Regions from separate parts of the Homo sapiens genome. Here regions 1, 2 and 3 are each linked to region 4. Evidence: fine-mapped expression QTL. A gene starts in region 4. Each other region holds a variant in brackets. All regions are shown on one strand. Distances are between the middles of the regions. Region 1 overlaps LRFN2 (leucine rich repeat and fibronectin type III domain containing 2). Region 2 has its middle 18 kb from the start of LINC00951. Region 3 has its middle 8.4 kb from the start of TDRG1. Region 4 holds the start of LRFN2 (leucine rich repeat and fibronectin type III domain containing 2).

Region 1 (5,573 bases), 140 kb before region 4:
GCTTCCACACCTTGTTCAATAACTTATGACAAAAGGCAGAGTTGGAATCGCAGTCCAGGTATGTCCTACCCCCTCCCAGATGACATCATTCTCAAGGCGGAGAGAAAAGGAAGTGGTAAAGAGTTATGGGAATTCTATGGAAGACTCCCCCACCAACTAGGGCAAGGGAACTTTTCTTGGAGGAGGTGGTGCTGATTGTGGCCTTGAATGATAGGTGGTAGGATTTCAGCAGCTTGGGCCAGTTGTCTTAATGAGGACATTCTAGAAGGAAGAACAAAGATTCAAGGTATTGTGATTGGAGAGAGGTGGATCTACCAAAGGTGGACAATTACAGAAACCTTTTAAAGGAAGCATCCTCAAGAGGCCCCGGCTTGAGAAGTGCTGGCTTAAGAAATTGACTTACTGGCAAGGTGGCTAGTGGTAGGCACATGGCCTCTGGGGTCCAGCCACTTTGTAGGACTAAGGAATCCCCTCAGCTTCAATCCTGGCCTGCCTCTTTCTGGCCCTGTGGTCTTGGGCAAGTTGCTTGACCTCTCAATACCTCAGTTTCCTCACCTGTAAAATCGAATAATCTTATAAAGTTGTGAGGATTAATTGAGTCAATCCTGTAAAACACTTAACCAGGGCCAGGCACAAAATAAAATCTCAAAACAGTGTTTCCCATTACAGTTCTTATTAAGTGCACTCTCTTTAAGTTGTGACTGGCTGTTCTCAAGGAGAAGCTTTGGTAAAGAATGAATTTTAGATTGCCACCAAAATAAAAAGCTGAAATGTAAAACATGTTCATAGAACTCAGCACCTCCTGGGGACCTCACCATTAGTTTAGGAAATTCTGCTGTTGTCGGTTAGATGGGCAGGAATAGAGCCATGACTAGGGAGCAATAATCAAATCTTCCTCCAGCCTGGCCACTCCTGAATCCAAGGCTGGGGTGTAGTCTGGGTGTAGGAGGCCTCCTTGCCCAGGAGAAAGGCAACCAGCAGTGGAGAGATTTTTTAATTTTTAATTTTAATGAAGGAAGAAGCATTCCAAGGCAAAAGTGGCTAGGGCCCACGAAGGCCATAATGCAGCCCTGCTCACCTGTTATGGGGGCTACAGAGGAGAAAGGATCTCCCCCTTCCCTGCTGCCCCTACATTCCTCGTGTCTGATCATTACAGGCTTTTTAGTAATTCTCTCCCCAGCAGCTTCCTCACTGCCAATGGCCTTGCTGATACAGCTGCTGTGTGCTGTGTTCATCAGGCTTCTGTCACTAGGGCTAAGTGTATTTATTGTGCTACATCATTAGCGGCGATATGTATACATTGAACACCTGCTGTGCTGAGCTCCATACAGAATCTGAGTAAATAATTTTCTTTCTGTCCTCTGGGAGGCTGCAATCTATTAAAGGCAAGACAGTCTGCACAGAGGAAGACACACAATTATCTTCTTCCAGTAGGAGACAGAGAGGTGCAGGCAGGGAATAAATGATAAAAGCAAAATCTGCCTTGTTTCTCCTTCAAACTAGACCTCCCAGAGAAGTGGGAGCTGTGTCCCCCCTCAGACTGGGGCTCCCTGATGATGGGGCTGTGTCTCCCTCAGACTGGGGCTTCCTGAGGATGGAGCTGTGTCTCCCTCAGACTGGGGCTTCCTGAGGATGGAGCTGTGTCTCCCTCAGACTGGGGTTCCCTGAGGACGAGGCTGCATCTCCCCTCAGACTGGAGCTCCCTGGGATTGGGGCTGCGTCTCCCCTCAGACTGGGGCTCCCTGAGGATGGGGCTGTGCCTCCCTCAGACTGGGCTCCCTGAGTCAGGGCTGTGTCTCCCCCAGACTGGGGTCCCTGAGTCAGGGCTGTGTCTCCGCTCAGACTGGGGCTTCCTTATAACAAGGCCACACATTCCCTCATTATCCTATTAGTTTTCCAAGAAAAGTATTTCTACTTTTTCTATCAAAGCAAAAGACCCTACCAACCTTCTCATTAACCTCAAGCAAAGCATGTCCCCACCGTATGCCTCAGTTTTCTTGTGTAAATGAGGACATTAATTACCTTTAAAGTTGTGGTAATGTTACGACATTAACCTCAAACTCAGAATTCTGCCTCACTCTCAGGCTCTCTTCTTTCCCCAAATTTGCCTACCTTTAACATCACTAGAGGCAGAGCTGTCACCATCCCATGATGTCTTCTTCCACCTGAACTAAATGGGGACCTGAGTTTAGAATCTTTAACAAGTTTGTTCCCAAACCTTTATTTTTCTGTGAACTTCTCAGAAGGTGAAAGACTTGACTTTGCTCAAATAATTCTCACTCTTCATTACTTCAAACGTAGATGATATCATCATCATCATCATCATGAAATGGTGAACACTTGAGTGCTGATTCTATGGTAAGCATTTTCTGCCTTAACACATTTCATCTTCCCACCCACCCTATGAAGTGGGTGTGGTAGTTATTTCTATTTACAGATAAGGTGAGGCCCATCAAGGTGTTTAGATGATGTACTCTGGGTGGCCTACCTAGTAGGTGGTCCACCTAGTAGGTGGCCCCTCATCCATCTGGGCTCTCAAAGAGCTCTGTAGATATTGCCAGAGTCTAGGGACCCTAGGACTGACCCCTGTTCTCCTCCATTAGAATCAACCAACAAAATGTACACAAGGCTCTATCCAAACAGTAATCACTTTATAATCAAGCACTGATATTAACTGATAATTAACCAAGAAAGAATGGGGAGCATGCCCTGGAGTTTCAGGGAGGGAGGCCCAGCCTTTAGGTGTCAAAAGCCACGAGTGCTCCTAGTGTTAGGGCAATAGCCTGTGAGAGACCGGGAGCGTGGGTCCTCCTGAGCAGTGTCCTTCACACCCGTGAATCCTTCCTCCACTCACACCCATCACTTGGCCTTGGGATTTGCGGGCTTGCTGAGTTGGGGAAGCAGCTCATACCTTCCCACTATGAAGA[G/T]GAGAAGCAGAGCCAAGTGCTTGGCTGAGGTAGTGAGTTTTGTGCTTCTCCTGCAACCCCCTGGGTTTGGTGCACCCATCAAGCACGTGCTCCCCTCCAGACCCCACCTCTGGCAGCCTCAGATAGGGTGAAAAAATAATTATTTTGAGAATCAGGAGATCAGGGCGAGCCTGAGGCCAAAAGAGACTCACTTCTGCCAAAGTAATAATGATACCCCATGAATATATACAAATTGTAAATTTACAATAAAAGATAAAAATGAAAAAAATGAAATCTTTGCATCCTCCGTCAGCCCTAATCTTTTGGATTCTTATCTTGCTGCAATACTCAAAAAGATCAAATACATAGATGGTTAAAATATTAATGGCTGATTATCTTAAATGAGAATTCTACACTGCCTTTACCAAAGGACCGAATCGCTAATGAATTTTTAGGCACTATCTCCTGACTTGTGGTGTTGGTGTCTGGAGAGATTACAAGGCTGGGAGATCCTAATCGTTTCTCTTAATTCACACCATATACATGTTTCCTGTCCTTTGGCAGAAGGCAGAACCAAGGAAGCTGAACACTTCCGGCTTCAATTCCCTTGCAGAGCTGGAGATTGAATGGAGGAGGCTGGCTGGAGGCTCTGTGGGCTGGGAAAGGGGTCCTGGTCCTGTTTTGCCAAAGGAAGGAAGCAAGCACAGTTTCCTTCTTTAGTTGGGAGGGGTAACAGGGAAGTCAGGCTAGGGGCTCAGAAGTATAACCAAAGCAACCAACTCTTCCTTGACACGCAGCATTGTGCTCTTCCTCTGTGGGGTGACTATCACAGCCTCTTGGTTGTTCCCTAATACACATTTTCCTGTTCTTCCCTAGTAAGAATCCCCAATTGCACATGGTGAATATAGTTAATAATAGAGTATTGTACATTTCAAAATTGCTAAGAGAGCGCACTTCAAATGTTCTCACTACAAAAGTGTTAAGTATTTGAGGTGATGGATATGTTAACTAACTTGACATAATTATTCCACAATGTGTTTATAAATCAAAACATTCCTTTGTACCCCATAAATATATACAAATTGTAAATTTACAACAAAATATACAAATTTTAAAAAGAGAAAAGAAGTCCCAAGTGTTATTTGGCCAAAAGGCCACCCCCAAATAAAGACTGTATTTCCCAGCCTCCCTTGTACTCAGTTGCAGCCATGTGACTTAGTTCTAACCAAAGGGTTGTGAGTAAATGTCTACTATGTGATGACCCACAAGTATCCTTAGAGAAAGGTCATGCCTGTCTTTGCTCCTTCCTGCTTTCTACTGATTGGAATGTAGATGGGGTGGGTAGAGCTTGAGCAGTCATCTTGGACCATAAGGTGGTGGCCAGGTTTGAGAATGCAAAACAATAAGATGGAAGGAACCTGGGTATCTGGTGATCATGGCACCACCATATAGCCCTGAACTTCCCACAGTTTGTCTCTTTTTTCATTACAACTTTCTGTTTTAAATAGTTTAAGACTCATACGAACTTGTAAAAAATAGTATAAAGAGTTTCTATATACTCCTCACCCCATTTTCCCCATTGGTAACATATTACCTAGCCATAGCACAATTGACATTGGTACAATGCTGTTCACCCAAATATAGACCTTATCTCTGTATTTGTTACATGATAGAGAAAAAAAAATTCTATCTCATTTGGGCTACTTTGCATTGTTTTGGTTTTATTTTTTATCACTCACAATGAAATCTTTTTCTAACTGATATGAATTTCCAAAAAATATAAGGTGGCATCCCAGCCCCCTCCCTGAGAAATGGATACAGTAGGCAGAAGGAGCTGACACAGACGCAGGGAACTAGAAAAACTTCAGGACAATGTAGAAAAGTCTTTTGAAACAGAGAGAGACACAGGACTACGAAGTCATCTTTCCTTTCGATGGTGCTGAGAGAACTGTCCTCACCGGCCTCCTTACCCCACCACTGACTTTGCATCCTTGCCTCACCTTCCCTACCTCGGAGCTCACCTTTCTCATGCTAGAACCACCTGCATATCCACATCTTACCTACCCAGAGCTCTGCATCTCCCTGCCAATTCTTGGAGACTTAAGATTCTCATTAGTATTGCCAGCTCCTGGCCCATCAGAGTCACATGTTGGGAGAGAGGAGTGAAGGCAGGTGACATTTGTTGGTATTTTCAACTCGGGTGAAAACAAACAAATTGCACTGAAGTTAAATGTCAAAGGCCCCTGAGCACATTGCAAGGGAGAGAGGGAGGGAGGAGCACCTCCTCACAGGGGCAGCCTTTTCCTTGTCCCTGGGTGGGTGTGCATGGGGGATGCAACCGTGCTGGAAGCCTGCAAGGAGGGCAAAGTGTGCAGTGTTTGTCCAGTGTCCAGCTTCATCCCGTCATGGGCAGACTGGTTATACACGGGCAACACCAAGTGAGGACACTCATTTATTCTCCATCTATTTGCTGACAGAACATTTACTGAGAACTTACTACATACACAGTTGCTGTAATAGGTGCTGAGGGAAGCCAACTATGAAACAAATTTTCACTGGCCTCCACCTCCAGGGAATAGATCTCCTTTAGAGAGGACATAAGATGTATAAATATATAATGTAAGAAGCAAATGAGTATTATCTCGAGGAGTACAAAGTTCTTTGAAT
Region 2 (5,573 bases), 250 kb before region 4:
AATAGACATTCGTTGAATGAAGTGAATGAGCATCAGAGGGCACTGGTTTCATGGATCTGGGTGTGGGGGACAAGGCATACCATGCGCAGTGGTCTCTGACTCCCCTGCACACGCACGGTGGTCTCTGACTCCCCTCATGCTCACGGTGGTCTCTGACTCCTCTGCATGTGCACAGTGGTCTCTGACTCCCCCGCACGTGCACGGTGGTCTCTGACTCCGCTGCGCCCCTTTTGAGCATCTTGGGAAAGCAGTAGACCCTCTCCCCGGGAGGAAGTGTACACACATCTGCAATGCGGTATTTTGCAAATAAATTCTAATAGTTAACAGAAACTTCTGCAGAAGCTGAAGTTTTCTTTAGAAGATTGGTTAAGAACTCCTAGTATAGAACTACACAGGGAACATTGAATTTGGAGTCAGTAGACTTGAAGTCTTCCCTGTGGAGAAGTCACTGAACATTTCTGAAGTTGTTTTTTCTTGCCTGTTTCACAAACATCCCATACAATGTTTGTGAAAATGCCTTGTTATCTGCCAGTTGTAATTAATAGCGTCATTGGCCATTTCAAGCCTGTCTATGACAAAATGAGTTTTCTAAAAAGAAACTAAGGAAGGGCATCCTATGGGGAGGCACAGCTTTGTAATCAGTCTTGGCCCTAGCCACAGAGGGGCCATCCCCTGCCAACCCCCCACCCCCCACAACAAAGGCCCTACAATATTCCAACTATCTGCAAGCTTTAAGCCTGGCCTGTTAGAGAAATAATCAGATGACCTGGTCATGATTTGCCTGAAGCATTTGGGTAACAGTAGCAACAGAAGTTGAACAGACTTTAGCTACATTACCAAAGCTATTAAAGTTAAAAACCACTAAACAACCACAGCTTGCTTCCAATCATCCACCCCACAGGCATTCAGAACAAAACCAACAAGAATGTGTTAGAATAAAATGGACACTGAATCTTATTAATGTCTTGAGTTTGGAGCTTTAAAAGCAAACCCCTGGCACTGAGGACATCAACCAGTAGGCATTGTTGAGCAGCACGGGGTCCTTCCAGGAGCATCCTTACACCCCCACCCTAGACACCTCTAGGTCCTAGGCTAATTTTCAGGATCCATGATGAGAAGGCATTTGTGAACACAGATGTGACTTGGGGGATAGTGGGTGGGGAATACCTCTGGCATGGGAGGTCAGTGAGTCAGAGCTGAAGACCCTGGGGCAGGCAGAGCAACCAGAAGGATGGGGGCACCAAGTGGGAGCTAAGATATGGGACCAAGGGAAGCCCTACATGTATGAGCAAGGGCATTGACTGTGAGTCAGTCTTGGGGGCAGAAGTAGCCAACAGCTTCAGAGTCTGCCAACAGCCCTCCTTCTGCATTGGCAGGCTCTACAAACAGAGGGAGGTTCTGCAAACAGCGCAAGTGCATTAAGTAGCTTCAGATCCTCTAACCAGCAGCTTGCTCTATACACAGAGAACGGTGCAGTCTTCAGGGATCTGGTGAGCAGACGGCTACAGGATTTGTACCCCAGGATTAAAGCCAGAAACCAAAAGACCATCTGCCGGTACCCACAGGAGGGAGGATGCAGGTCATTTTCATGTGCAGTGACATCGTAGGTAGGTTCATTTTCTCACAAGACTTGAGGCCTTGACACCTCTGTGTGGCTCTTGCTGCCCTCCCCTGAGAGGATCAGAGAGTGGGCAAGTTCCTGATTCCTTCCTGCAGCACAGCATAACAAGCTTCTCATTGGGAATCGCTGGGTGTCTGGCTGTGGTGGGTGTGGACCATGCATTATTAAGAGAGAGGCTAGGCGCCCTGCAGAAGGCTGAAGCCAGGGGCCATTGCATTGTGTGACATGGCTCAGCCTTTCCAGTTTACAGTCCATTTGGACATCCATTATTTATGGCAGCCGAGTGGCTGTGAACAAGCTGAGACTCAATTAAGGTAACGTCCCCCACACAGAAGCCATGGTTAATGCTGAGAAGTTATTCCAACTCCCACCTTACCATCACAGAGCTGGAGACACAAAGAGACCAAGAAGTGGAATTAGAGAAACGCAGAGATGGAGGCAGAGAACAGAGAAATGAAAAGAGAGGCAGACACCCCCATCCCCCCACCACAACCCCTGCACACAAAGCCAGAGGCTTTTCCCATGGGCCATCTTAGCACTCTCCTGGCTCTGCTGGAGTCCCCTGCACCCTGTCTTAGAGGAGAAGAGCCCTGTGTTCTGGCTCTTGGAGGCCCGAAATTGATTATCCCAGTCTCCACTGTCCCCATCTCTTCCTTCCCTCTTAGTGTCCATCCTGTGCTGTGCTTGAGGACATGGAAGAGATTGGATATATCCTCAGAGGACTGTGGATGGTGACTGCAAGGGGAACTGGGTGCCAGAGACAAGCTGCTGGCAGTTCTAGAGTCCATGGAGCTGGAGGACAAGAGAGGGAGGCGAGAGGTGTGACCAGGCAGGAGCTCTGGGAAAGGCATTGCTGGGGAGGGCTGGAGATGAGGTTTTGGTGTGGAAATGGAGAGGACAGTAGGTGGCAGAGAAGTGGCTGAGAAGGGGAAAGACACCGGCAGAGAGGGAAGAAACTAGGGGAAGAAGGGTCCAGGATGCTGACATGGGATAAATGCAGGGGACGTGGGAGAGAGGGAGGTGAAGGAAGAGAGAGACAGAAGAGGGGAACGGTGGAGGTGGGGGTGGCAAGGGTAGAGAGAGGCAGAGTGTTTCAGAGCTGGCAGAGCACATGAGGACAGGCATGGTGCTTAGGTGGGAGGCCCTTGGGGAGACTGACTGACAGTGGCTGTCTGAGCATCGCGGAGAATGGCAACCGAGTTTCCTGAGTGTCCTGGGCCCTGAGTCCTAGATTCCTGTGTTG[G/A]GGCAGTCTGCTGGCCATCTGCTCTGTTCCCTGCTCAGGAGGCTGGCCAGGTGCAGGAGAACCTGGGAGGGTTGCTCTGCAGGCAGCAGGAGTGGCTGTGTCCACTGCAGGGTCCAGACCTGACTCAGGACGGGAAGAGCAGGCGGCAGACCTGACTGTCTTCTGTCCCTCTCGTGGCTGCATCTCTGCCATGCTCACTTCTCCTCCTTTTCATTTCCCTACTGGAACCCTGCAGGTGGCCTGGGGCAGGGTTCTGCTGAGTTCTTTCTTGTTGATGATAAGTCATGTCCATCTACCACCTCCTGCTCTGCCCACTCTTCCTTCTAATTGAGATACAGTTTCATGATTGTTATTGTTATTATTATTTTCATCATCTTTATTACCGTTACCTTTTAGAAGCTTGTAAGCTCCCTGAGGGCAGGAGTCTTCTCTCATTTACCTCTGTGTGTGCACACATATACAACCACACTAACTCACAAACACCCCTTAGCTATTGACAAAGACCCCATGCTTACTTCAGGGAGTGCTATACCAGTCAGGGTGTTTGCAAATCTACTCTGGCTAGCTTAAGCAGAAAATGAAGATATTAAATCTTTGTGGGAGACAGACTCAGACTTTGGGAGCAGCTGCCCAGTCAGGAATAACGCCCAAACCAACCCCAGCCTCTTCTCCTACAGACCTCAGGGCTGCCATGGTCTGGCACAATTCTCAGAGCTCTCACTGCTGATACAGGGTCCTGGATCCTGGTGCCTCCATCTCTGCTGCCTCCAAAGCCAGATGCCTCTGCCCCTGCCTTTACCAGGAAATAGATACTGCATGGCATTGGCCACTGCTTGCCTGTCTCAGGCTGAAGCCTCTACTGGTGGGTCCCATTGGCAGACTCCATGTCCATGCCCTCGTCACAGCTACAAGAGACACTGGGAAAGATGAGTCTCTGGTTTCTCACTCCAAGAGGCAGGACTCAGAGTGGCCAGAAAGCTTGCTGGTGTTCTCTAGGCAGTGAGGGGCACCTGCCTGTAGGACTGCATTAATGGTGGTGGATGTGGAGGTGTCTATATCACTGGCAGCTGCCATGGAGGGCATGTTGTCTCCCTTGTGGGGAGCTGGGGGCTTCTGTATCCAGGCAGGGTGAAGGCAGGCATTGAGGATGAGGTGGCTGAATCCAGGCACAGCAGAGCCCCGTTGGTAAGCAGGTGAGATATACCCTTGGCATTTTCCCACCTTCAGCCCACCTTTTGCCAGGGAACTGTGCAGAACTGCTGGAGGAGGGCTAACGGAGCTGGGGGGACAGCAGGAACGCCCTTTCCAGGTGTGTCTGCTGATTAAAAAGGGATGCAAAGTGAGGAAATGAAATTGGATCTGAAGGCGTGAGGCAGGGCAGCCTGGCTGTGCAGATGTTCCGACCCACCTGCTCACCGAGGGTATTTCTGTTCACCCGCTGCCTGTGTTCCCATCCTGCCAAGGCCATAAAGACAAAAACACTTCCTAGAAGTGAAAAATACTCGTGCTGAAATTTCAAGCACCTGTTGGGGAATGGGGGTTTGAGGGTAAGGCGACCCCCTTGCCTTGTCCTGGGCTGGGCTGTCAGTCATTTGTTCCACCCCAGCATCACAGAGGTGGGGCCCACCTCCCCCGCACCACCACCCACAGCCCCCTACTCTAGACCCTTCCCCACACATGCCCAGGCAACCTCCTGGTGAGAATTGCACCCGAATTCAATTATCTTTGTGGCTTTTGGCTAAAGGGATCCACACACAGCAGGCAGGTTCACGGGCCTAATCGGGCCTGATGCATATCTAACCAGACAGGGAGTGTGTGTCTGGATTTGTCGCCTGACAGGTACAGATGTCGGAGGCTCTCATCCATGAGATGGAATCACTCTTAGAGATTGAGAGGCTTAGGCGGTGTCAGTCAGAGACGGGCCACACATCTCAAGCCGGGACAGAGGCTGCCAGCAAAGCCCTCTTCAACCCACTGGAGTCAGCAGGCCCAGTGCTTCATAAACCAAGTTATGAGAGCAGAGCTGAGAATTTCTAAGGAGCCTCCTTTTTAAAGCCTTTCACTTCACCTGCTCTCCAACAGCTGGTGAGTCTTTCCAGGGCAGCACAGGTAAAGGGATGAACAAAGTCTCAGAAATAGAGAACCTGGGTTGAAACCACCTCCACTATCTACTAGCTGAAGGGCCTTGGGCAAGTCACTTACCTGCTCCTGGTCCCACGTAATGCTTGTCATCTGTGGGCTTGCTGTAAGCAGTGAATGGGATTCCCTAGGCAGCCGCTCCGTCTCTCATGTTCCTGTAGCACTTCATTCCTCCCTATTAGGTAGAAACTGTCTAGCACTGGACATATTATTTAACCTCTCTGAGACTCATTTAGTGCCTGTCTACAATGCAGAACTGTGACAGTGCCTACTTGGTCGGGCTGTCAAGAGGGTTAATACCTGCAAAGCCTCCTGACAGCCTGGTGCATGGCGAGCCCTCAGGAAATGGTAGTGGTGGTTTTTGGTGCTGGTGGTGGTGGTGGGGCGGATACTCCAGCATCCCCCTTTTTGGGCAGAAAGTTTCCTGCTTGCTTGTCTTGCTTCCCTTGCCAGCCAGGGAATGGGTCAGGGGCAGGGTCTCTATCCAGCCTGCATCCTGGCAAGGAGCCAACATTCCATAAATCTATGTTTGATAAATTAGTGAAAGAGACGATACCATGCAAAGATAAC
Region 3 (5,573 bases), 200 kb before region 4:
GTTAGATTTTGGCTGTTGGGAAAATCCTGGAACAAAGATGAAAGGTGAGAAGGATTAGGGAACCAATGAGTGAGGGGCAGGATGGCCATCCTCAGCCCAGCAGTGAAGTCTACAGTTTTCCAGGTGCTTCCATCTACTATTGGGGCTGTTGTGTATGTCAGAACATTCAGGGCATCAGGGAGTACAGAGGTTACCATGTGCTCTCTGCCACTTCCCTGCCTCCTTTCTTCTCTCAAAATCATAGAGACCAGTGCTGATTTGGCAGGGAATATCGAACCTCTTGAGATTTTTCCAGCTGGAACCCTGGCTCTGTACCTAGTTTTTTAACACTATTTTGACCATAGCAGTCTTTGGGAGCTGCTTGATGTCTGGGCTCTGGATTTCCCATGAAGTCAAGAATGATGGATTCACAAGGGCCCACCGGGAATATGGAGCCATGGTCTGATTAGAGCACAGAGAGCTACTTCCTGCCTTGGGTAAATCCTGAAATTCATCATGCATGATTTTCCTTTTAATAAGATTAAGGAGAGCTTGTATAGATATTGAACAGGGGATCCTGATAGCCATTGAGGGAGGCTGGAGTAGATGACCTCTGATAGCTTTTGCCAGCTTTGAGAGTCTATGAACTTAACATATGTAATATTATCATTAATATGCTATAATTTATGTTACTTTAAATGATGCATATCATTAATAATAATGACTGTTATTACGCTGCCTTTTCCGATCCAATATGTGATCTGTGTAACTACATAGTACTACAGAAGCATACTTACTGAAGTCGATACTTACCATTGATATCTTACCAAAAAAGAAACTGTGGCCAAGAAACAGCCTCTCAACCCAGAACCCCCAAACTAAACAGCCTCTTTCTCTCAGGAGGAACTGAACCTGCCTTGGTTTACTCAGTTCTCTGCAACTACCCTTCTTCCAGACCTGCTTTGTTCCCTCCACCACACCTCCTCTCAAGCTCCTGGGACAGCTAGAGATGCCTCCCTCAACCCCTGCTTGTCCAGGCACAGGATCCCAGTCCTTAATGTGCCCCTGTTAGACCCAAAGCCAGTCACTTTTCCATACCAGGTCTTAATTTCCTCTTCTGTAAAGTGACTCAAGATTTTGAAACTTAAAATCTGGTGAATTCTTCCAAGCACAGGTGCCATCTTATGTTGTATGGCCTTTGGCCAATCCATCTGTCCATCTTTTCTTGGATAGTAGTTTTGCCAGATCTATAAGTTATCTTGAAATTAGTGAAAACAGACCAATCTTTGATAACCAGAGATCTAAAGCATCAGCTTATGGCCCTGTCCTTCAGGGTAATGTGTAAGGCCCTCAAAGCCATGCACAGTGTCTTTCACTTTGACTTTTATCTCTCTCAATACCATGCACAGTGCTAGGCACACAGCAGGTCAGCAAGAGCATGCTGAATGAGCACAAACAGATTTCACCATCTCTCCCACTTTTTCTGCTGGACTCAGTCTTCTGAAAGTCAAGGCACATATGCCAGGATTCAGGCCTTCGACATGAAACCCAGACAGCTCTGCATTTTTACATCCTCTGCAGCTCTGTAAGAAACTTCAGAGCAAATCCATCTCTTGAGTGTTTACCCAACTTTGTGCCTCAATAGCTGTGTGACCTTGGGCAAGTTATTTAACTCTTCTCTACCTGAGCTTCCCCAATAGAGATATTAATAATAATACTTATTTCATTGTGTTGTTTTGATGATAAATTGAGATAATCTATATATAGCTCTTAGACCAGTACACGGCACATAGGAAACTCTCAATAAATGTCAGGTATGATTATCAACTTACTTTTGCAGTTCAATATTCACCTGAAAAATGCCAACCTAATGTTCTCCTAATGAAAGTATAAGAACTTTTCCATAATTAGTCTGGGTAGGTAAGGCAATCACCCCATCTTTGGTAGACAGGAAGGACCATGTCTTCCAAGAGATCCCCACAGGAATGGGTGGGAAGAGCATAACAGGAAACCCAAGATGAAAGCCTTCAGGATTAATAGCTGCAACTGAGGGCTTAAATCCCTTCTTCTTGGCAGCAGTACTCCTCAAATGGTGAGCAAGTTACCTGCTAGTTGCCAGGACATGCCAAGTCCATGACAGAGGGGACAGGTGTAGTGCACTGAGGTTTTTACTTCACAACAAAGTGGAAACAATGTCAGATAGGTCAGCTAACACAGGTCTCCATGGTTTGGAAAATGGGATATCTTGGATGTAGCCTAGGAGATTCAAGGGAAAGAAAACTCATCCTTGCAAAGTATATAAATGTTAGTGCTGCTGTGGGGTATGCCAGGGAGCACCACTGAACACATGTTACAGAGGAGGTGCAGGAGAAGAGGGGGTGTGCTCATCACCAACTAACCAGATGGACAGCCTGGACGGATGGGCTGGGGCTGTGGGAGGTTGGTCAGTGGGCTGACTGGCTGTGGACCAGATGGGTTTGGGGATCCCATGGAGATGGGTGAAATTCCAGCTCCATTCTCTCATCAGTAGGAAACCGAGCATGTGACTGTTGACATCTTGGAAAGGACTAGACCATGAGATCTTCCTTGCTCCAATCCCAGACAGACTCCGGCATGAGATAGTGGAGGAGAATTCTGGCTCCAGGAGCATATTCAGCTGATGGCTAAAGGGACCAGAAGATCAATTATCCCAACAATAATAGGAAAATAACCAGGGAAGAGCCTGTAATCTGGGCCTACTTCCTCAGAATAGGTGAGCAAAAGAAAGATGTCACACATTATACAAAATGAGAACATGGAGAAAGATCACTGAACCTGTCAGAAGTTCCTAAATAGCTATGATAGGGGTCACAGGATAGCCTTAGAGGTAAAAGCTAGCTTCTCTCTTTGGTCTGGGGAAAACATGCCAATTTCTCTCTGATAGAAGCTTCAGGGAAGGGAAACCACGAGCCTTGTAAACATTGACTGACTGTGAGGTACAGAACCTTAATTGAGATGATGGAAGCTACAACCTTTGGTTTAAGGGCTGAAAGCACAAATAGATATTTTTAAACTGTGAAAGTGACAGGGTTCCTTTTAGATATTGGGGCAGTAACCTGGATGGGCCTGATTCTATTATGCAAAGGTAGAAACCTCAGGTATTTACCTGTGAGAAGCCTCCTTGTCACAACAAATTCTTCTTGCTGCCAACTGCATCACATGGAAAGGCTAGGTTTGATAATCTAGGTGGGATCTTTAAAACGGTGTATGCAGGTTTTGAGTGCTGCCTGCCAATAGTCTCTTCTTTTGAATAA[G/A]TGTGTCTATTTTTCTGGCAGCAGTTTGCAGAAATCCCACTGGTTGTAAGAACAGAGAAAGCCCCACCCAGCTTGCTGAAGCCCTGAGACCTTCACTGCAGGCACACTGAGAACAGAAGATACAGAAGTACTCAGGCTGTACTTATGAAAAATCAATACTCACAGACTTTTAAAGAAAAGTTACTTTGCATTTGGGAAGGGGGAATCCTGAGACAGTGACTGTTGCCTAGCCTGGCTGACAATTATATCCCTTAACAAAAAAGTGTTCCTGAGGTCTTTTCGAATTTCAACACTGTAATGGTGAAAAAATAGAAAATTCTCTTGAGGGAAACCTGAGGGATATGTCATTATCGAGAATGTGGGGAAAGGGGTCAAACTGTTTTTCCAGAAAGCTTAATAATCAACTAGGCAAATATTGTATCAGCTATCTCACCTCTGCAAAAGATTGAAGAGCTGGAGGCTTCTGTATATCAGGAAAGAGGATCTGGGTAGGTATCTTACCTGATAGGGACAGGGGTATTAAAATAGAAAGAGGCGAGAAGATGGGTTTTGTCTCTGAAGCAAGCTGTTGTCAGGCTTTTTATCTTAGGGGGAAGAAGTTATAGGCTCCTGGGGCAGAGCAGCCCAGACAAGACTGGAGATGGAAGGCTCATTCAACAAGCAACCTCCTAGAGGTCACCAAGAGGGAAGAAGGGGTGACCACAGGGTGGGCTGGGCAGTGCAGTCTGAATCCTGAGGAATTTTCCTGGCCAGGGGAGGGAACGTGTTTCAAGGCAAGGAGGGCCAGAAAGGCCGGTGTACGGTCAGAAGGAACTGCTTCACCAAGGTGCTCTTGCCTGGAATTAACACTCTGAGGTTTCTCGCAGATCTTAGGCTAGTCAAGGGTTTCCTGATTAGGCTACAAATGTGAATCATTCAGTCAGTATAAAATACAATCTATAACAGGTTGACGGGAAGAAGAAAGGATGGGAAGGCAGTGTGATGTCATGGGAAGAACTAAGGCTTTGCAGCCAGACTTAACTGTGTGACCTTGGGCAAGTTACTTAACCCCTCTGAGCTTCAGTCCCTTCATTTATAATATGGGCATAATACTATCTACCTAAAAAGGTTTTAGTGATGATTCAGTGAGAAACATATTTGAAGCAACAAGCACAGTAACTGGAAGCTGTAGGTACTCAATAATTGTCAGTTTCCTTCCTCTTCTAAAAGCTGTGCTTTCAAGTCAATTGTATGTCTAGAGTCGCACTGTCTGGTACAGTGGCCAGTACTAGCCACATATGGCTCTCAAGTACTTTAAAGAGGGCTAGTCTGAATTGATATGTGTCATACATGTAAAATACTTTAAAGAGGGCTCATCTGAATTGATATATGCCATACATGTAAAATACAAATCAGATTTCTAAAACTTTGTACCAAAAAATACCATAAAATAACTTACTAATAATTTGAGTGATTACATGTTACAATAATATTTTGGATATATTGAGTTAAAATATAAGATTAAAATTAATTCCACCTGTTTCTTTATATTTGATTCAACATGGCTACTGGAAAATTTAAAATTACAATGCGGCTTACATTTTATTCTATTGGACAGTGCTGATCTAGATACTAGAAAAGACAAGGTTGGGAAGCTGTGTTCCAGAAGCATGTTTGTTTCTATACCTTGAGTTTGGGTTTTGGTTTGTTCTCCCATGGTTTCCCAGTAAAAGACCCTTTTGAAAAAAATACCATCCAGGGCTCAACCAAAACGGGTAGAAGATACCTACATGCCCCTAGTAGTCAGGTGTTGTGGTGACCACAGTCCAGGAAAAAGTAGGTAGGGCTGGTATATCAGAGAATGGAGATGTCAGGTAGGACAGTCAGGACAGCTGGGGATGGACTGTTCTTTTCTTAGCCTGAAGCTTCTCTTCAGATTTCTCTACCTTTCTTTACTCTGGGAAGATGATCCCATTTTCTATTATTTCAGAAGATTCCCCCACCTTATACATGAACTTGGCAAGAAGCAGGCTCCCACCAGGCAGTAACAAACACAGGTGCAAGAGAAAATGCCACTTCAAAGCCATCTTTAGAAAACCCCAGAGTTTCCAGAGAAATGAACAGCAGACATTCACAGACATAAGAATGTTTTTTTTTTCCCCCGCCCAAGGAGTGTGGTTAGTGGTTGTTTTTAAAACTGTACATTTTACTGTACATTTTTTTTCTAGCAAAGGAGAAGATTGGCATTTATATTCTGACCACAGGGATGCTGCTTTCCAAAACTCCAAGTCAGAAACATGACAAACACAAGAGCAAGTACAT
Region 4 (5,573 bases):
ATAAGCCTCTATACATCCACCCTGCAAAAAAGGAGAGCAGAACCTGCTCAACCCCACAGGCTGAAGAGGCTTGGCAAACTGGCACTTGGAGGCCAGAATCCCTGTTTTTTTTTTTTCCTTTGGAGCTGAAGCAAAGATAAGAAGAGCAATTCCTCCTTCAGTCAAAGAAGGACTCAGTTGGCCAGAAGGCTGCCTGGTTTCCCCGGTGGCCCCACCCACTCTGACTGCATTTTCTTCCCATCTATCTTGCTTCTCCTCCTCAGCCTCACCTCCTGGAAGCTCCCAGCTCACCCTCTCTCAGGCCAGACTCCCCAGCTTCTCACGTTTCTGGGCCTGAGCAAAGAACTGGCACTTCACAGAAGAAGGAGCCCTGAACCCCAGCCTCCAGCCCACAGCAGGCAGGCACCCAGTTCTTCTAGACAGGAGATGGAACTGGGAGCCAACCTTCCAGAGGCTGAAACAGAAATGCCAAGTTTGCTGTTTGCATCCCCAGGATGAGGGCAGGAAGATAAATAATTACATTCCTGGTCAGGAATTAGACCAGAAACTCTAAATTGAGGGCTGGGCAGGGGGCCTGAGCAGAAGCATGTGAGGAGGCCAGAGGGAGATGCAACTCTGCACTCCCAGCCAGAGTCAGAAGGGAAAGATGACATTCCAGCATCAGCAGAAGGGCCCAGGCAGCTGGCATGGTCGGCGGAGGATGACGGCTCCAAGTGCAGGCCTTTTGGAGCTTCTGAATCCTCCCTACAGGACTCTGACCCCCTTCAGCCTCTGATGTACCCCACAAGGAAATGACACTACCCTCAGGGCTCTGCTGTGTGTGGCTATATAAAGCTCCTGCCAGAGGGCAGCGACCAGACCAGGGCACAACCCCAAGACCTAGTTCCCTTGCTCCCCACCTTGAGTTCCAAATCGGCCCCCACACAAGAATAACAGCCCACATAGAACCTCTAGCCCTGGCCCCTGGGAACTTCACAGCCCAGGGAATGGCAGTTTCCTCCCTAGCTTTGCTCCTCCCCAGCAGCAGGGGGTCAAATTCCTGAAGCTTCCCCCTCCCCCAGTACTAGAAGGCCAATCAGGCCATGGAGGCCACAGCTGCCACCTCCCTGAAACATACACATGCGTACACACACACACGCGTACACACACACACACACACACACACTCCATTGTGGCCAGGGGAGGGGGTCATCATCTATAGCCATGCCTGTAACTCCAACTCAAGAGTGCAGGCTCTGACATGTTCCCTGTCCCTGCAGGTGTCTGTCCGTCTGCAGCTGTCTGCTGTCGCCGGGTGCATTTGGCAACAGTCTGGCTCAGTCCCTCTGCGGTCTCCACTCAGGCTCTCTTCTCCCTCCTGCTCTGGTTTTCAGAGGCTCTATCTCCCTAGAACTCTCTGTCTCTGTCCTTTGTACCGGGCTGATGGGAAGACGAGTAGGACACCTCCCTCAGAAGGTCTGTGCAAAGTAAGGCACTGTCCACCTCGGAACGGTCTACTGCTCTCCCTCCTCCCTGCCCAGGCCAACCTTAGAACCAGGGCAGGGCTGGGTGGGAGACAGAGACCTAGGAACCCAGGCATGGCTAATGCCACTTTCCATATTGCTTCATCATGCCATTCTGATGCCCCAAGCTGCACACACACACAATCCCCCTGATCTGCTTTCTGCCTGAGGCCAGCATAGGGTCCCTGAACCTGCCCTACCTGCCCCCACAAACTGCAACCATGCCTTCCTTCCTCCCATCCGCTCTGCATCAACCCTTCCGCACTTGGCTTTACCCCACCCCACCCAGTCCACAGAGCTCAGGGAGTCCCCGGCGCCCCCACCTAGCCCCCAGCAATGGCTCTAGCCAGGCCTTGCATGTGCGGAGATGCAACAGAGTGGTCTGGCGGCAAAGTTCTCCTGCTGTTTTCAACGGTTCCATCCACCCGTGGCTCCCCGTCTCTCCATCCGGCTCTCCAGTCTCACATGGACCCGGCTCTCCCCGCTCCCCGCCAGAGTTTCACCCCCACTGTAGGAAATAAAGACTAAAGAAAGGAAAGGAAATCTCTCGCGATAAGGATGGGCGAAAAGAGAAGGGGGTGTCCGCATGAGCACCTAGGATGCGGGGAGTCTTCAAGAGAAAAAGAAAGGGATGCAAAGTTCCCGGTTCCCTCGGGTGCGTTCAGCCCCGCGCCGAGCTCCCGCGGACACCCGGGATCGCAAAGACGCAGCGCCGGCGACCACTCACCTGGGCGAGGCAGCATCTACCCCCGGCTGGGTGGCACCGAGGCCGGCTCCGCGGGGCGCCCGGGCTCCCCGGCTCGGCCACGCATCCTTCCCCGCCCGAGACAGACTCGAGCTAAACCCTCCGGCGGCTCCGGCGAATGCAGGCAGATGGTGGCCTCGGACGTCCACGCGGGGAAAGCCCTGAGCCGCTTATTCAGTTATATCCATGGCATTTAGCAAGAAGAAGGGGGGAAAAGCACAACTTGTTCTCTTCTCTTCCAGATTAAAGAAAAATAATAATAATAATCCCTCCCTAGGAGGATGCCGGTAGGATTTTCCGGATCGAAGAACCCCAGGCATTCCCAGGAACCTCGGGCATCTTGGAATGTGGGGTGTCTTCAAGTTCAGACGAGCCTGCCGGGTTGTGTATGTGTGAGTGTATGTGTGTCTCAGCGAGAGGGAGCCAGGCACTCACACCCACACGCACACACAAACACACTCCCCCGTACTCCCCGCATGCACACTGCCCCCCACGCGCGCGCGCATACGCGCGTACCCGGTTTCTCTCTCCGCTCCACACACACACACACACACACACGCACACACACACACACACGGATCACACGCTCCAATCTGGGAGGGAGTCGGGCGGGCTGCGGAGACAGCGCAGGGCCAGCAGTGGAGAAAACCCAGCGGCCAGAGGCGCCCAGGAACCCGGCGGCCGTGCGCACCGTCCCCGCCGAGCTCTCCGGCGCGGCAGCCCCCAGTGGCGAACCGCGGAGCTGCAGGAGCCGAAGGCAGCCTCTGCGCCCGCTGCCCTGCCCGCTGCCGAGCGCACCCGCTTCCGAGACGACCAACACCGCCGCGGAAACCAGAGGGATTCACGGTCCTGGCAGGGGTGGCGCGGGGACGCACGGTGGGGCGGGAGTGGGCTGGGGCCGCAGTCGCGGAGGGAGGTGGGCAGGCCGCGAGCCCCGGAACCGGGAGGGCGGTCTCCGCGGTCCAGCGGCACGGGCAGCCCCTGCGGAAGGCGAGCCGGGCGGCCAGGGCTGCACCTCTGCAGCTGGCGACGGCGCTGCCACCTCACGTGCCTAGCGCGCCCTGCAGCCGTCAGCCCGCCGCCTGCTGGAGGAAAACCCGACCGCGCCGGCCCTAGGCTGGGAGTGGGGGCTGGGGCGATCGCGCCCACCCAGTCCTGGGGCCCAGTTCAGATTCTCGAATCCTGGTAAGGGACCTATGAATAACGAGCGCCCCGTGCACGCACACACACGCACTTTGACTTTTCATGATTATTACAAGAATCAGTGAAGGGTGCAGTGGCGCCAAGTGTTTGCACAGCATCTTTACAACTCTTCACTTGTTTGATCTTCTCAGCAACCCTCATTTGATGTATAAGGAAACTGAGGCCCAAAAGAGTAAAGTGACTTGTCCAAGGCATGTGGTAGGTAGCGGAGACCCTACTCAAAGCAGACTGTGAGCTCACAGTCAGAACACCCAGGTCTGGCCAAGGTCTCGTCTTTGGTTATCCTCTCGGTTCACTATAAACAACTAGTTACCAGAAAGGTAGGACCGTCCTCTGCCTTACTGGACTCCCCAAGAGGCATTTCCTTCCTTCTAAAGGAAATGAAATTTTGAGATTCCTGTTGGTACTCCAGCTGGTAAATCCAGGGGCAGGAAGAATGTCAATGTTGCAGTCCTTCTCTTCTCTCCTGGTGGCTAACACATCCCGTGCACCTGTCCCGGTTACCCACAGGGAGGCACATGTTGCATGTGGATGTGTCTCTGCAGCCCAGGATTGGCTCGGCTGGATACATCTGTAACATACGACCCTGTGTCCTCTCTACACACATGCATAACTGCAGAAGCCGAGGCAGCTGGTCCTCATGTGTGCACCCTCCACATGTGCACCCCGGGAAACTGCCAAACTGGCATGCTGCATATCCTTGAAGACAAGCCTCTCCCTGCAGGAATTCTGGAAAGCCTGGTGGGGGAGGGGCATGGCCAAGATGAAACTCAAGGTATATGGGGTGGGCCTTGGAGAGAAGGGATCTAACTCAGGAGCAGGGAGTGAGGGATAGAGGTAGGGAAGAGTCATGAGAAGGAAAGTAATGAGGAAGGAAGAGGTGAGTAAAAGGAGGTGTGGAGTAGAAACTGGGGAGGGCAAGTAGGGAAGAGGAAGGGGAAGGGAAGAAGGAGGGGAGAACAGCAGGGAAACTGCCTTACTCTTTGCTTACCTGAGGGCTTGCCTACTATTGGCGGGAGCTCCCAGGAAGAAAGGCTTAGGAAGAACCACAGCCTGGGCTCAAGCCTTTGAATTCTCCCAAGGGTTGGGGGCAGTGGGCTAGGTTATCTCCCCTAACCCTCAGTCACCCATGAGACAACCAGAACGGAGTGGCAGGGATAGGACCAAGCTGGCACCAGAGTAGAAATGGAGCTGCTTTTAGAAACCAGAAAAGCATTAGAATGATGTGAATGAGGGATATAGGAAGGATGGATCAATCTCTGCTCTAGAGTGAACCCAATACTCCATCAAGAAGTTTTCTCAAGTCAGAAACATGGATATTCCATGAAGAGCCAAGACCTGGGTCATTGGTAATTCTGAGAATTACTGGTTTATTTTTCTAATTACATTTGCCCCAACATAACCTGAGTACTGTGCTGGGGCACAGGTGGCCTGGATGCTCACCATGGCTTTGTATTAACAAGCAATGTGACAAGTCCCTTTTCCTCAAAGGGTTTGGACTGTGCATTTGCTAAGAGCCTTTCCAGCTCTGGGAACCCCCAAGCAACCTTGACAGATGGAGCAGGATGGGGACCACATACATCTTGAGAGGCCAAGAGAACACCAATCTACAGTCACCGTTTACCATGAAAATCCCCAGAAGATAATCCACACTTGGATCATGAAAAGGTGAAAGATGGTGGATTTCTTGGCTCCTCGAACAAGCCCACAAGGACTGAGTTAGGGTCACTAACGTGGCACCTGGCTTCCTGTACTGGTTACTTACCTCAGAGTTGAGCCAGGGCTTCCCAAAGAGGTGATCCCATCATTCCAGAAGGGGTTGGGGAGTGAAAGCCATTTTAATAATGGGCATTTTGATTCTTCTTCGTGTTCATTCTGCTAAATAACCCTGTGATGAACATCTTTGTACCTAAGTCTTTCCCCACATTCTTGTTTTTGTGCTTAAGCTAGACTCCCTGAAGTAGAATCACTGGGCTGGAGGGTATGAACATTTTTAAGGTTCTTTGTACATACTTTTTTTTGTTTCAGTTTTAGAGCCAAGGCACTGAAGTGCAGGGCAGATAAATGATTTCCCAGAGAGCTCCCAGCAGGTGCTTAGGGATATTTTCACACACCCTTTCATG

The links. PIP is the estimated chance that this variant, and not a neighbour inherited with it, causes the effect. A credible set is the group of variants that fine-mapping cannot tell apart.
Region 1: its variant is the best candidate, but not a certain one, in a credible set for the expression of LRFN2 in whole blood (INTERVAL, PIP 0.52).
Region 2: its variant is the best candidate, but not a certain one, in a credible set for the expression of LRFN2 in cerebellar hemisphere (GTEx, PIP 0.86).
Region 3: its variant is the best candidate, but not a certain one, in a credible set for the expression of LRFN2 in T cells (TOPMed, PIP 0.81).

The regions. Positions count from the first base shown.
Region 1 is chr6:40,445,301-40,450,873 of GRCh38, forward strand. The region is part of intron 1 of LRFN2 (leucine rich repeat and fibronectin type III domain containing 2); the gene reads right to left. Among named protein-coding and RNA genes, the nearest start is that of TDRG1, 70 kb to the left of the region's middle. The variant G/T (reference allele first, on the strand shown) is at 2,928.
Region 2 is chr6:40,335,653-40,341,225 of GRCh38, forward strand. No RefSeq gene overlaps it. Among named protein-coding and RNA genes, the nearest start is that of LINC00951, 18 kb to the right of the region's middle. The variant G/A (reference allele first, on the strand shown) is at 2,865.
Region 3 is chr6:40,383,988-40,389,560 of GRCh38, forward strand. No RefSeq gene overlaps it. Among named protein-coding and RNA genes, the nearest start is that of TDRG1, 8.4 kb to the left of the region's middle. The variant G/A (reference allele first, on the strand shown) is at 3,273.
Region 4 is chr6:40,584,712-40,590,284 of GRCh38, forward strand. It overlaps LRFN2 (leucine rich repeat and fibronectin type III domain containing 2), which reads right to left and starts at 2,653. Exons shown (of 3, transcript NM_020737.3): 1 at 2,230-2,653. RefSeq lists silencers at 2,826-2,925, 3,016-3,085.